2 linked regions of the Homo sapiens genome follow. The protein of the gene in region 2 interacts with the protein of the main gene of each other region in a pairwise test. Each region holds a gene or a part of one and is shown on either strand. Other genes may lie near its edges.

The links. The genes of interacting proteins can lie anywhere in the genome.
Region 1: the proteins of RAP2A (region 2) and MINK1 interact in binary tests that used the Homo sapiens proteins (3 or more experiments, as listed by UniProt).

What each region holds. Positions count from the first base shown.
Region 1 is NC_000017.11:4,885,320-4,892,344, forward strand, and holds part of MINK1 (misshapen-like kinase 1), read left to right. Parts: intron 1-163; coding exon 164-294; intron 295-591; coding exon 592-646; intron 647-800; coding exon 801-879; intron 880-1,131; coding exon 1,132-1,307; intron 1,308-1,790; coding exon 1,791-1,860; intron 1,861-2,260; coding exon 2,261-2,471; intron 2,472-4,327; coding exon 4,328-4,444; intron 4,445-4,902; coding exon of another isoform or gene 4,903-4,989; intron 4,990-5,197; coding exon 5,198-5,416; intron 5,417-5,631; coding exon 5,632-5,805; intron 5,806-6,136; coding exon 6,137-6,397; intron 6,398-6,829; coding exon 6,830-6,915; intron 6,916-7,025. UniProt on the Homo sapiens protein: Serine/threonine kinase which acts as a negative regulator of Ras-related Rap2-mediated signal transduction to control neuronal structure and AMPA receptor trafficking.
Region 2 is NC_000013.11:97,458,147-97,465,171, reverse strand, and holds part of RAP2A (ras-related protein Rap-2a), read right to left. Parts: intron 968-7,025; coding exon 730-967; 3' UTR 1-729. UniProt on the Homo sapiens protein: Small GTP-binding protein which cycles between a GDP-bound inactive and a GTP-bound active form. In its active form interacts with and regulates several effectors including MAP4K4, MINK1 and TNIK.

The sequences.
Region 1 (7,025 bases), on a different chromosome or scaffold from region 2:
CGGGTTCTTCAGGATGGTGGTGGGGTAAAGGAGGGTGCTGGGGTGTCTGGGTCGGGCCAGGACCACAGCTGGCTCAGGCAAGTCCTGTGTGTGCACGCAGGGATGTGAGGCAAGGGAGCAGAGGTGACTCCCCACACTGACCCCTCCCTCTGTGTCTTCACAGTGGATTTTGGGGTGAGTGCTCAGCTGGACCGCACCGTGGGCAGACGGAACACTTTCATTGGGACTCCCTACTGGATGGCTCCAGAGGTCATCGCCTGTGATGAGAACCCTGATGCCACCTATGATTACAGGGTATGGAGTGGAAAGTTGGGAGCATGGGGGCTGCCAAGGGCGGGAAGCAATATGGGGACCACGGGGCCTGAGCAGGCTGGGGAACAGAGGAAGGTCAGATGATGTTAGCAGTGAGGGGCTGGGGAACATCTTACGGCAAGGCAAGTGTGGGTGGGAAGATGGGATGGGTTGGAAGGCACTGCTGCAGGAATGGGTGTGGCCCAGGAAGGCTCCTGAGAGGCCAGGATGGTGGGTGAAGAGAGGTTGCAGGGCAGAGTTGTCAGGAATATTCACTTGTTCCTTCTTTCCCGTCTATAGAGTGATATTTGGTCTCTAGGAATCACAGCCATCGAGATGGCAGAGGGAGCCCCCCGTAAGTTCTGAGTCTGCCGGGAGTGGGAGGGGAGGGAAAGGAAGGGCCCAGAGAGTGGCTGTAGGGAGGAGGTGGGTCCTGGGACCCTGCCGAGGAAGGGTCCTGTAGCTCCCAGTGCAGTGAAAGGGACTGAGGGTGTCTCCTCTGTGTCCAGCTCTGTGTGACATGCACCCCATGCGAGCCCTCTTCCTCATTCCTCGGAACCCTCCGCCCAGGCTCAAGTCCAAGAAGTGGTAGGTCTCTGAGAGTGTGGGCTCTGGGAAGGAAGGTCCCTGGACAAGGCCATCCCCACCTTCATGCCCTCTGTGCTCAGGCTTGGATCTCACCAGAGAAGAGATTCTGGGGGGCAGAGGGCGGTGACTGGTGTTGGGATATGAAGACAGGAGGGACGTCAAGGTGGCTTGTGGATGAATGATCCACCCTCTTCCTCCTGCACCCATCCCTTCTGAGGGGACCCTCCCAGTGTGAGCCACCACTGTTTCCAGGTCTAAGAAGTTCATTGACTTCATTGACACATGTCTCATCAAGACTTACCTGAGCCGCCCACCCACGGAGCAGCTACTGAAGTTTCCCTTCATCCGGGACCAGCCCACGGAGCGGCAGGTCCGCATCCAGCTTAAGGACCACATTGACCGATCCCGGAAGAAGCGGGGTGAGAAAGGTCAGTGGGCAGGCTGGAGGGGGCAGGTACTAGGGGACACTCCAGCCTGGCTCCTCTCTGCCAGCCCTGCTCGCTCCTGGCACCCCTTCCTGCTCCCCTCCTTGGCCCCAGCTCTCCCTGTCCAAGGAGATCGTTCTCAAACTTGCAACCCCCAAGGGGTTTTCCCTCCTTTCCCTCCCAGTCTGAATCAGCCTTCCAAAGGAGGACCGGCCTTTCGCATCCTTACAAAAACTCCATGCTAAGCACATGTGTGTGCGAGCACAAGCACAGGCTCTGCCACACCTCAGCTGCCCTGGGACCCAGTCCCGGTCCTGTCCAGGCCCACACCTGAGACCCGCTGTCCTCCCATTGCCCCCAGGAAGTGGGTGGGGCCCCTCATGCTTGCCCAGCCAGAGAGACCTGGTTATCCCCACCCAAGGTTTCCCTAGCCCACGGCGGGTCTGGGGCGCTGGGTGAGATAACTGCAGTGGCCTCCCCCTGCAGAGGAGACAGAATATGAGTACAGCGGCAGCGAGGAGGAAGATGACAGCCATGGAGAGGAAGGAGAGCCAAGGTAGGCCTGGCAGGTGGAGTGGGGGTTGGGGCGGTCATCGCTGAGTGGGGGGACTACAGTGGTGCTTGGCTTTGGGGACTCTCAGCCTGGGGGTGGTGGGCACAGAGAGGTAGAGACTCCTGGAAACCAAATTTCTGAGTGCTAAGAAGTGGAACCAATGACTGAGCAAGAGCTGGGGAGAGAGCAATTTGTGGTGAATGTGGGGCGCAGCAGTAATAGGAAAGGAGGACAGGACTGAAGACTGGGCAGAAGGGGACGGTAAGTCTCCTGGCCACCTGGGAGTGGCCAGAGGCAGAGGCTTTGATCCAGTTAAAGCACCCACTCAGGCGGGCCCACGGGGTTGAGAGTGGGAACCAACAGGGTTCTGACCCCAGTGCTTCTTTGTGCCACCCCTGCCCAGCTCCATCATGAACGTGCCTGGAGAGTCGACTCTACGCCGGGAGTTTCTCCGGCTCCAGCAGGAAAATAAGAGCAACTCAGAGGCTTTAAAACAGCAGCAGCAGCTGCAGCAGCAGCAGCAGCGAGACCCCGAGGCACACATCAAACACCTGCTGCACCAGCGGCAGCGGCGCATAGAGGAGCAGAAGGAGGAGCGGCGCCGCGTGGAGGAGGTGGGCTGTCTCCGAAGGGCCCAGGCCTGGCGCGGCCTCCTCCTGACCTGCCCCGGGTCCATTAGGGCCTTGGAGAACAGGTTTTAAAATGCCTTAAATGAATGGCATTTCTGTTGAAACAATTATATGATTTCAAATTTCATGATGAGCTGGACTTAACACAAAATGTAATCCCATCACTTTGGGAGGCTGAGGTGGGTAGATCACCTGAGGTCAGGAGTTTGAGACCAGCCTGGCCAACATGGTGAAACCCCATCTCTACTAATAATACAAAAATTAGCCAGGTGTGGTGGCGCATGCCTGTAATCCCAGCTACTCCGGAGGCTGAGGCAGGAGAATTGCTTGAACCCGGGAGGCGGAGGTTGCAGTGAGCAGAGATCACACCACTGCACTCCAGCCTGGGTGACAGAGCAAGACTCCGTCTCTAATAATAATAAGCAATAACCCGCAGCACCCACACTGTCCACCTGCTACCTCCAAAGTAGGCCCTCTCATTGTTGAACAAAAAATAATTTGCAAGAAAACCTGCTACAGAAGAGCCTTGTGCAGTTTTGAAAATATAGGCCAGGTGAGGTGGCTCACGCCTGTAATCCCAGCACTTTGGGAGTCGGAGGATGGGGGCGGATCGTGAGATCAGGAGTTCGAGACCAGCCTGTCTAATATGGTGAAACCCCATCTCTACTAAAAATACACAAATTAGCCAGGCGTGGTGGTGCACGCGCCTATAGTTCCAGCTACTTAGGAGGCTGAGGCAGGAGAATCGCTTGAACCTGGGAGGTGGAAGTTGTAGTGAGCTGAGATCACGCCACTGGCCTGGGGAACAGAGCAAGACTCCGTCTCCAAAAAATAAAAAAATAAAATAAATATAGCGTTCAGATAGTATAGTAACAAAGTCCTATCTTTTTTTTTTTTTTTTTTTTGAGATGGAGTTTTGCTCTTGTTGCCCAGGGTGACGAGTGCAGTGGCGCACTCTAGGCTCACCGCAAAACCTCCGTCTCCCAGGTTCAAGTGATTCTCCTGCCTCAGCCTCCTGAGGAGCTGGGATTACAGGAATGCGCCACCACGCCCGGCTAATTTTGTATTTTTTTCAGTAGAGACAGGGTTTCTGCATGTTGGTCAGGCTGGTCTCGAACTCCCGACCTCAGGTGATCCACCTGCCTCGGCCTCCCAAAGTGCTGGGATTACAGGTGTGAGCCACCGCGCCCAGCCACAGAGTCCTATCTAACAAGGTGTTACCTGGAGAAGGCCTGCTGGCAACTTCATTGCAGAAGTAGGCACAAGTTCCCTCAAGTGTAAGGGTCCCTCAGGGTTTGTGCTTTTGTTGGTGGTGGTGGTGGTAGACTTCGTGAAAGCCACCACAGAAATACCGTGAAAGTAAAGTACCACCTGGGCACTGGTGCTTGTCAAGGAGTGGGCCAGGTCCCTCTTTTCTGTGCTTTCTGTGCACGGGCACCTGGTGCCCTCTTGTGGCCAAAGGCTATCACTACGACCCGCTCTATATGGACTTCAGGCAAAGGTCGATTTTAGGCTAGGAGTGCTGGGGAGGCTTGTTTTGAGTTCGGCTTTGGTTTGTTGTTTGGTGGGGTGTGGGGAGTGGAAGGTGTTGTCTAGCTAAGCCCACCCCACAGGCAGCAGTCAGTCTCACAGCCTCTCTCGTCACAGCTACCGGCTGTTTACCCGAGCCCAGCCCCGCGGGCCCTTGGGTGGGGATGGGTATAGTTGCAGAAACAAGCGGAAGCCGGTCTCTCTTACCACCCTCCGTGGTGAGCAAGGAGGGCTCCCCTCCCTGTCCATGGAGGGGCAGTGCTGACGCGATGTCCGGTATGGTTCTTAAGACCACCTGGCTCTCCCCACAGCAACAGCGGCGGGAGCGGGAGCAGCGGAAGCTGCAGGAGAAGGAGCAGCAGCGGCGGCTGGAGGACATGCAGGCTCTGCGGCGGGAGGAGGAGCGGCGGCAGGCGGAGCGCGAGCAGGTAGAGCGCCGCACCCGCATCCCTGCCCTCCCGCCCTCCCGCTCCTGCTGCCTGCCGCCCCTGCTCCCCGTGCCCTTCCCCCTTCTCTCCCCCACCCCCAGATTCCTCCTATCTTTTCTAGCTTCACTCTTTCTCTCTGTTTTCTCCCACCCTTCAACCCCAACCCTGACCCCCTCCCTCTTCCTTCCCTGCCTCATTCCCATCTCTTTACCCCATCCCTGACTCCCCGACCCCTTCCTCATCCCCCCTCATTCCCTGTGCCCTCTTCTTCCCCATCTGTGCCGCATGGCCCCCTGGGGCTCATGTCATCCCCTCCCCTACCTCTCTCTTACTCTTCCCCTGCACCCCCTCATTCTCCTGCGGATCCCTTCCTCCTTCTCCAACTCGCTGCTGCTGCCCTCCTCTGCCTCTTCCTCCTTCCCTGCCCTCTGCCCCCCACCCCACACCCCGTCCCCCAGGAATATATTCGTCACAGGCTAGAGGAGGAGCAGCGACAGCTCGAGATCCTTCAGCAACAGCTGCTCCAGGAACAGGCCCTGCTGCTGGTAACGGGTCCCTCAGCGTCCTCTGGGAAGATGCTTTTCAGAGCTTCTTTGCTGGAACGGGATGGGAACACTTCAAGGGAAGGGATTCACCCAGGACATCAAGGGAATACATCTCCTCTCTAGGCAGTTGGAGAAAAGAGAGGGCATGCCTGCTCTAACTCCCAGGGCCACACCCTGCTGAGCCCTCTCTCCCTACCCTTGGGCCCAGGAATACAAGCGGAAGCAGCTGGAGGAGCAGCGGCAGTCAGAACGTCTCCAGAGGCAGCTGCAGCAGGAGCATGCCTACCTCAAGTCCCTGCAGCAGCAGCAACAGCAGCAGCAGCTTCAGAAACAGCAGCAGCAGCAGCTCCTGCCTGGGGACAGGAAGCCCCTGTACCATTATGGTCGGGGCATGAATCCCGCTGACAAACCAGCCTGGGCCCGAGAGGTACTCACTGCCTCCTTTGCCTCCTGAGACTGCAGTCCCACTGCCTGAGGCCTGGAGAGCCACAAGAAGTAGTAGTTCACAGTAGCAGGCACCAAGTAGGGGAAAGGAGCACACAGCACAGAGCATAGGGCGGGAGTAGTTAGGGCAGGTGGGACCCTCAGTTTTGAGAACAGGGAGGCAAGAGCTGGCCTGCTTGACATCCCTTCACATCACAGGTAGAAGAGAGAACAAGGATGAACAAGCAGCAGAACTCTCCCTTGGCCAAGAGCAAGCCAGGCAGCACGGGGCCTGAGCCCCCCATCCCCCAGGCCTCCCCAGGGCCCCCAGGACCCCTTTCCCAGACTCCTCCTATGCAGAGGCCGGTGGAGCCCCAGGAGGGACCGCACAAGGTGAGTCTCTCCCCACCCCTGTCTTAATGAAGACACAGGGAGCTTTGTTCAGAGCACAGGTACACACACACGCGCGCACACACACACACACACACACACACCTGCTCAGCCGTGAGCCAGGATTACAGAGCACAGGCTTTGTGGACAGACTCACTCACCTGCTTCTTGCTGCCTGTGTCTGTCCTGACTTAGCTGTCATCAGGCTCAAGGAACCCCTTGTCCTTCAATGGAGGAAGGGGCAGCTAAAGTCCTTTCCCACCCCAGACCCCAATTCGCAGGTGGGGATGTGCCATGGAGCAGGCAGCCCACCCTCCCTGGTCTCTCCCTGCAGAGCCTGGTGGCACACCGGGTCCCACTGAAGCCATATGCAGCACCTGTACCCCGATCCCAGTCCCTGCAGGACCAGCCCACCCGAAACCTGGCTGCCTTCCCAGCCTCCCATGACCCCGACCCTGCCATCCCCGCACCCACTGCCACGCCCAGTGCCCGAGGAGCTGTCATCCGCCAGAATTCAGACCCCACCTCTGAAGGACCTGGCCCCAGCCCGAATCCCCCAGCCTGGGTCCGCCCAGATAACGAGGCCCCACCCAAGGTAAGGACAGTTCTGCAGGCCCAGGGAAAAGCAGAGAGCTAGTCATGAAGAGAAGGAGGGCAGTGAAGGGGCAGGCCACATGGAGGAAGAGTGCAGGGCGGGAAGCGAGAGAAAGCCAGGGCGCTGCCCTGCCGGGGTCAGCCGTCCAGCTGAGGACGCGACGTGGAGGGGTGGCATCGATCCCTGTGGGGAGCGTGGGAACGGAGAAACGCCCAGGGTGTTTTGGGAGCGCTAAGGGGCAGACTTTGCCAGTTAGAACCGCAGCTCCACCATCATCCGGCTTCATAACCCTGGACGTATTCACTAACTCCCCTGAACCTCAGTTTTCTCATCCATCAAAGTGGGGGAGCTCACCTCTCAGAGGTGAGGCTTAAACATCTGAGAAGTGCCTGTCGCAGCGCCAGCTCGCAGCACGTGGACTTCTCTCCACAGGTGCCTCAGAGGACCTCATCTATCGCCACTGCCCTTAACACCAGTGGGGCCGGAGGGTCCCGGCCAGCCCAGGCAGTCCGTGCCAGGTAATGCCTGGGTAGGGCAACGCCTGGGTGAGGTCTGAGGGCAGCCTAGGGAGTAGGGGGGGCACAGGGACTTTACCAGCCTACCCGCCTGGGGGTGGGAAAGCCCCAGC
Region 2 (7,025 bases):
CAAACCCTTGTGAAAGCCTCCATTTTCTGTGGCAAAGCAGGTGAATTAACAAATTCTAAAGCCAGACTATATTTTTACATAACCTGTTCTGAGTTTTGCTCTATCAAGGATTGAAGCATGAGTTAGTTCCATGTCACAAATTAGAATAACAGCTACAATTAAGCATCAATTTTGAAAAACAGAAATGTGTTAGCTGAGCAAAGAATCTCCCTGTAATGCTGTTGGCAGGTCAGCTGTTATTATCTTACTTGACGGAATACATTGGTTAGAAGCTCTATCCCATTTCCTGAAATTCAGTACTCTTGTAGGAAAATATTTCTCCTTTACTTATTTTTTTAAAGAAGACAAAATATTTTAATTGTAAGTGGTCAGAGGAATTCTTCTGGTTTCTCCCTTATGGTTATTTTTAATTTGTACAATAGTTGCTTCTGTCAACTCAGCGACAATGCCATCATAGCTTTCAAATGAGATCACCCTGTAGATCGATGGACTATGCCTTAAAGTTGCAGATGCATAAAGGAGACTGAGGACAAATGGTGAAAACTGTAGTTACTGAACCCAAATGTTACTCAGAGATATCAACTGACAATCACTGCTCAATTCTGAATAAGGGCTGCAGTTCTCTGTAGATTAACACCACGCATTCTGCAAGTTCTGCAGTGGAGTAGGCGAGTTTTCTATCACCTACGACATTGGGCAAATCCCATCCAGGACAGCCATATTTGGATGCTATTGTATGTTACATGCAGAACAGCATGGGTCATCTTTGTCAGGCTGAGCAGCATAGTTCATCTGCCTCACAATTTCTGCAAAGAGTTCGTCCACCATTGTTTTACTCTTAGCGGAAGTTTCCATAAAGGGGCAGCCCCACTCTTCAGCAAGGGCTCTGCCTTCGCTGGACGATACTTCTCTCTCACTTTCCAGGTCCACTTTGTTCCCAACCAAGATGACTGGCACTTTCTCATACCTATGAGAGAATAAACAAAACACACATACATTGTAACAGTTAGCACAAAGTTAAACAGGTCACGTGTATTTTCGTTTTTGGGGGCTATTCCAACATAAATGGTATCTTCAGTTGCATGAAAATGATTTGTACCACTTGGCTTGATACTTAGATCTGAGGGCATTTGAAGCTGCTCTCACAGTGGATGATAAAATGAGTTTTATGAAATGATGTTTTAATTAATCAATTATATATCCTTTAAAATCAATTTACCTTTCCAGATATACTTGGAAAATTATTCTCAGAAACTCAGACTAAATCCTCTTTTTTTTCCATTCTGAGAGAGGGTTGCACAAAATTTCACAGTTGATCACACAGTAAATAGCTACAATGAGTAAACAAACAACTTATAATTATCAGCATTTTACTATGTTCTATGTGTATAAAATTGATCATGTTCATACAAAAATCAGCTGGGTGTGGTGGCAGGTGCCTGTAGTTCCAGCTACTCGGGAGGCTGAGACAGGAGAATCGCTTGAACCTGGGAGGCAGAGGTTGCAGTGAGCTGAGATCGTGCCACCGCACTCCAGCTTGAAAAAATGATCATGTTCGTTCTAATAGTTCTCAAACAAGAAAAAAGGTAGTAGAAATCATCCAAATGGAAGCTATCAAATACAACCACACCCCATCCCTTCAGAAAACTTTTATGGATTAGTCAGTTCAAAGAGAAACAATTAGGATTCTTTTAAGACTGACAAGAATTCAGCCTCAATTAGCTTTAATTGGTGTTATTTCTCTTTTTCTTCCTAACTAAAATAGGTATCTCTGAGTAAACACGTTTGGAAAAAGCTAAACTAATAAAAATAGTAAGTGATAAGAAAGAACAAAGAAAGAAGCTCCTAAGTCATTTTGGTGCCTAAGATGATTGTCTCTACAATGGTTACTCCATGTAGCACATTTCACAACAGATGTCAACACTGGTGCTGGACTGCACATTTATTTACTATTCTTCTTTATGTTTGTTCTAAGAAAGATAGCTAATATATTTTCACAAGACATTTTAAAAGGTTTTTGTGATTTTAGTATAAATCTGTGTGTGTGTGTGTTTGTGTGTGTGTGTCTTCCCATAAGCAGAATGTATTTCTGATTTAAAGGAGCTAAACAGCAAGATCGCACAAAAGTGATAACAAATGTGACTGGAAACAGCTAAATCTGTCAGAAGAGAAAACCACCCCATGGTCAAGCCTTTGAGGCAGGATGCATAGACAATTTTTATCATTCAGGAAACTGGATAATAGGCAGGTGGTTATTGTTCGCTATGATACTTCCACAGATTTCTTCATCCTGTCAAGAGGGTTCTCTCCACTCATCCTAACTTGTAAAGCAAACCAAATTCCCAACATTCTCACTTTTTTTCTTTGACACTATATCAAACTAAGAATGGTCTCAACAAGAGGGCATACTCCAGGTAGTGTGCCATTTGGCAATGTGAAACATGAAAACAACTTAAAAATGAGTGGAAGGAACAACATCAAAGGCAAACCTAGAATTTGGATATTATCATTTTATAGGAAATGAATTTGGACAACTTCAATTTATATCAAAGGACTTTATATAAATTTACTGTACACTACTGTACCTTACGATTTCGGGCCTTAGATCATGCTGACAGCTCTGAACATAAGACACAAGGGTTTTTAACATCTTCTAGGACTCTTACATACAAACAATTTGTGCATCCCATGGCCTCTAGGAGGGCAAGTGGCAGTGAGAATAAAGCTGCATTACAAAACACCATGTATTTGCTACTTTGCATATAAACTCTCTTGATTGGCTATACAGAGAAGCTTGGCAGGGAGCAGACACTGCCAGCCATGTCAGGACAATGTCAGCTTCCAATTTGTGTTACTTGCAAAATGTAATTACATTTCGTTTTTCTTATGAAAGTATATACATCACAGTGTACTTTAAAATGCTTTGCTTGACAGTGGAGTAACTTAAAAACATTAATAAAATTAAGTAAAACATTGGTTGAATTTAAGTTAAAACAAATTTCAGTCTGTCTATGAATAATAAAAAGTGATAAGATCACTTTCTATTAGTTGAGATAAATGATAAATATTTTAAAGAATGTTTAAATACAATATATATAATATATAAATATATATATAAATATATATATAAATATATATAAATATATAAATATCTATATAAATATATAAATATAAATATATAAATATATATATATATATATTTTTTTTTTGAGACGGAGTCTCGCTCTGTCTCCCAGGCTGGAGTGCAGTGGCATGATCTTTGCTCACTGCAAGCTCCGCCTCCCGGGTTCACGCCATTCTCTTGCCTCAGTCTCCTGAGTACCTGGGACTACAGGCGCCCACCACCACGCCCGACTAATTTTTTGTATATTTAGTAGAGACAGGGTTTCATCGTGTTAGCTAGGATGGTCTCGATCTCCTGACCTCGTGATCCGCCCGCCTCAGCCTCCCAAAGTGCTGGGATTACAGGCGTGAGCCACCGCACCCAGCCTGTATCATGTTTTATATGTGAAATATTTCTTACACTTTTAGTTAAGTTCAGGATCTACTAGAATATGTGGATTTTCAAAACTTGCAAATAAATCAAATTATTAAGTTGTATTGATACATTATTAAAATCAAGAATTTGAATAAATCTTACCATCAACCTAATTCTCAAAACAGTAAATAAAATATTGCAAACACAGTTCCACATATAACAGCATTTAATAACTGGTAAATGTAGATGAAAATGCAGTCAGTATCAGAGGACCTGTTTATTATATCACTAACTTGTCAGTGGCCTTTTCTAAAATCAAGTTTCTAAAGACACTAGAGAAATCCACATTAATATCCTCAGAAGATTTTTAAACTGAGTACGATGTTGAGAAAAATTATGTACATTTCAGAATACCAGACGGTGATAAATTTTGTCTCTCTGTTAAAATTTGGGACAGTAGAAAAGATTCTACACCCAGATTTGGAGGCTCTGCTTCCAGTTCTGCCAATGAGATCATTTCCTTTACATATCTGTATTTCATTTCTTTGATAGTAAAAAGGGAGTAAGAGTATCTGTTCCCACTTAACACAGGGTTGCTGTAAAGGGCAAATGAGATAATGCTGAAAAAAATGAAGTACTAGATAAAAGGAGGGTGCTTGCTTCTTTCCCCTCCTAACTCTAGTGATGTGGCCTTGAGAAGCCACAAAGGGTGAAGAAGGAGCCGGAGAAACTGATCAAAGGAGGTAAAGAACTCCTGAGGGCAAACCGAGTTGAGGGTGAAGCTGGAGGAAGAGACAGGCAAAAAAGATGGGAGTCAAAAACAACAAAGCAGCCACCAGACACTAACCAGGTGCTTCTCCAGAGTCCCTGTGCTGAACATCCATGGTGATGGGGGCCTAGGAAAGCAGAAAAGCAAGCATTCCCAAACAGCGGGCACTCGAGAGAATATACTGGCCCCTGTGGGAAAGGCATTCTAAGAAGGCTCTGGATTGGGGTGACAGAATAGGGTCCCATATGAAGGTAACATTTGGAGAAATCTGGATCCTCCTTAAGAAAGATGGGTGAGACGCTGAAGGGAAAGAAGCCAAGACCTGTGTTGACAGTAGATGACTGCACTGCATGAGGAAGCTGGTGTTGCTATCTGTTTTAGCAATATGGTGGGTTTAAAAAAAAAAGAAACCAAACAGACTAGGACTCCTGTCCCAGAAGGGGCTGCCTCTAGCTAGTACTGTGAATTTAGAAGATTAACCTAATCTTGGTTTCCTGAGTTTCTTGAAGTATAAAATGAGCTGGACTGGATAATTCCTAAGATACTCTGAAGTTAAAAATCACAACAGACATGGTGGGTCACACCCACAGTCAACACATATCATTGACTAGGTTAATTGCTGAGTGCTTAGCACTGTTCTAAGAATAACGTCCAACAGGCTGATCTTTAAGAGATATGAAAGTGTGCATCAGGAGTAAAGCCAAAAATGTTGGGGGAAATCTTATGAGATCTCATGGGGCCAAAACATAAGCAGGAGGTTTCACTTCTACAAGCGGAGCCACTACTGCCAGCATGCTCTGACTCAACAGCAGAACTCCAAAATGCACTCATGACCTAGGCAGTTCCATTTCACAGACAACGTTGTTCAAACACAAATATTTGGGATGGTTTTAACTACGTGAATACTGAAGGCTATACTGAAAACTGCCTGATGTGGCATAAATAGCTAGTAATGAACAATCGAACAATCAATACATCATGTACTTATCCATCCACTCAACACATATTTATATACTAAGTGCTAGCCACTATTCTAGACACTTACATCAATGGACAAAGCAAATAAAGCTCTGTAATTAGCAGAGGGCGCAGACATCAACAATAAACATAACAAGTCAATTCTGGGTTTACAATAAAAGTGTTAAGTGCAATGGAAAAAAAGATGTGGATCAGGTGGTGGGTGGGGAGCACAGGTGCCACAGTTTTAAATAAGATGATCCCAGGCCTTGTTGGGAAAGTGGCTGTGAACAAAGATGGGAAGGGTTTCTGGGAATCTGCTCCCTACCGTGCAGGTTCTAGGGGAAGAGCATTCTAAGCAGGACATGCCCTAGACAATGCCTGAGCCGGCGACAGCATGCCTGTCAGTGCAGGGACCAGCTGTGGGATCCATCTCTACAGCCTCCTGCAGGACTCTGGCAGTGGAGGAAATGCTCATTTGAAGCTAGACCTCAGGAATTCGGGTGCCAAAAGTGGCCTCAGAAAACAAATCTGGCACTTATGACAGACTGACTTAGAGGGCTGACTCTGTTATTTAGGAAGATGAGGTGCTTTGTTAGTGGGTGATGACAGTTACTTTCATGTTCTATTTTCATTATCAGTTTTGCAGGTTGCCTTCATTTTCCCCCTTTTCATCATTTCCCCCTTTTCATCATTTCTTCCTTACCCCCTTTTCATCATTTGGACATAAAGCTAAAGATGCAAAATTCTCAAACTGTTCAATGTATGTGTTATTGTTAACCTGATCATGAGTAAGATACCACCTTGCTTACATCTTAAACATCAGCAGATATCTCACCAACTTCAGCCCATCTTCCTTGAAATTTCCTTTAAGGGCATGACCAGCTCAGACGGTGACTGATGCAGGTCTAATAATTTTATTTCTGTGTGTAGTCTGTGGACAAACACTTTTTTATTGACAAGAATTTCCATAGTGTTGACTGTATTCATGAACCTGATTATAAATGTATAAATAAATAAAACTAGTTCTTTTAAGCAGCTCTGCTTAATGGACTGAATGAAACATCAGAAATACTGGCTGTAGCATCACTTAGCTGTAGAATGTTAATGGGCTTCTCACCGAGACAGCTTTTTAAAATATCAGTAACTCAAAAGAACTTGATGTGTTTATCAAAATACTTTATTTTGCTTTCTCCTTTCTTGTAACTGTCCTGATATGTAGGTATGTATACGTATATATATTTTATTCTGGTCGTGTCTGAACTTGGCTGATCATCAACACAACTTGAGAATTCTTTTAAAGATAGTGATTTCTGGGCCCTATTCCAGAGCTAGTTAATCTAAATCTGTGGGATCAGGACCCAAGAGTCTATTAAAATATGTAATATGTCTATATCTATAAGCTCTGAAGATGGATTCTGAAGTTCAGCAGGGTTTAGGAATCACTGGCCTAATCTACTACTTTGTGACCCCAAACAACATTCTATGTGTATAGTTCATGGTTCCATATGCGGCAAGTCCAGACTCAATTCCTTCTTCCCTTCATTTATTCACCAATGATAAACTGTAGACAGATACCACTACTGTCAGTTTCTGTACTTTACTTTTGAGGGTGCTGCATCGTAGCGTATTTAAAGAAGGTCATACTTCATGTGAATTTTAACATGCTGGTATCTTCTTAGTGATAAGCAGGTTGAAATATAATTCTCTTTGAATTTGGAAATGAGAATCAGAAAGGCTTTTCTAAGTCCCCTCATTCATCTTTTCACACAGTTAAAATCATCTACCAAGAGAGTCCCAAGGCAAAACGTCAAAAAAACT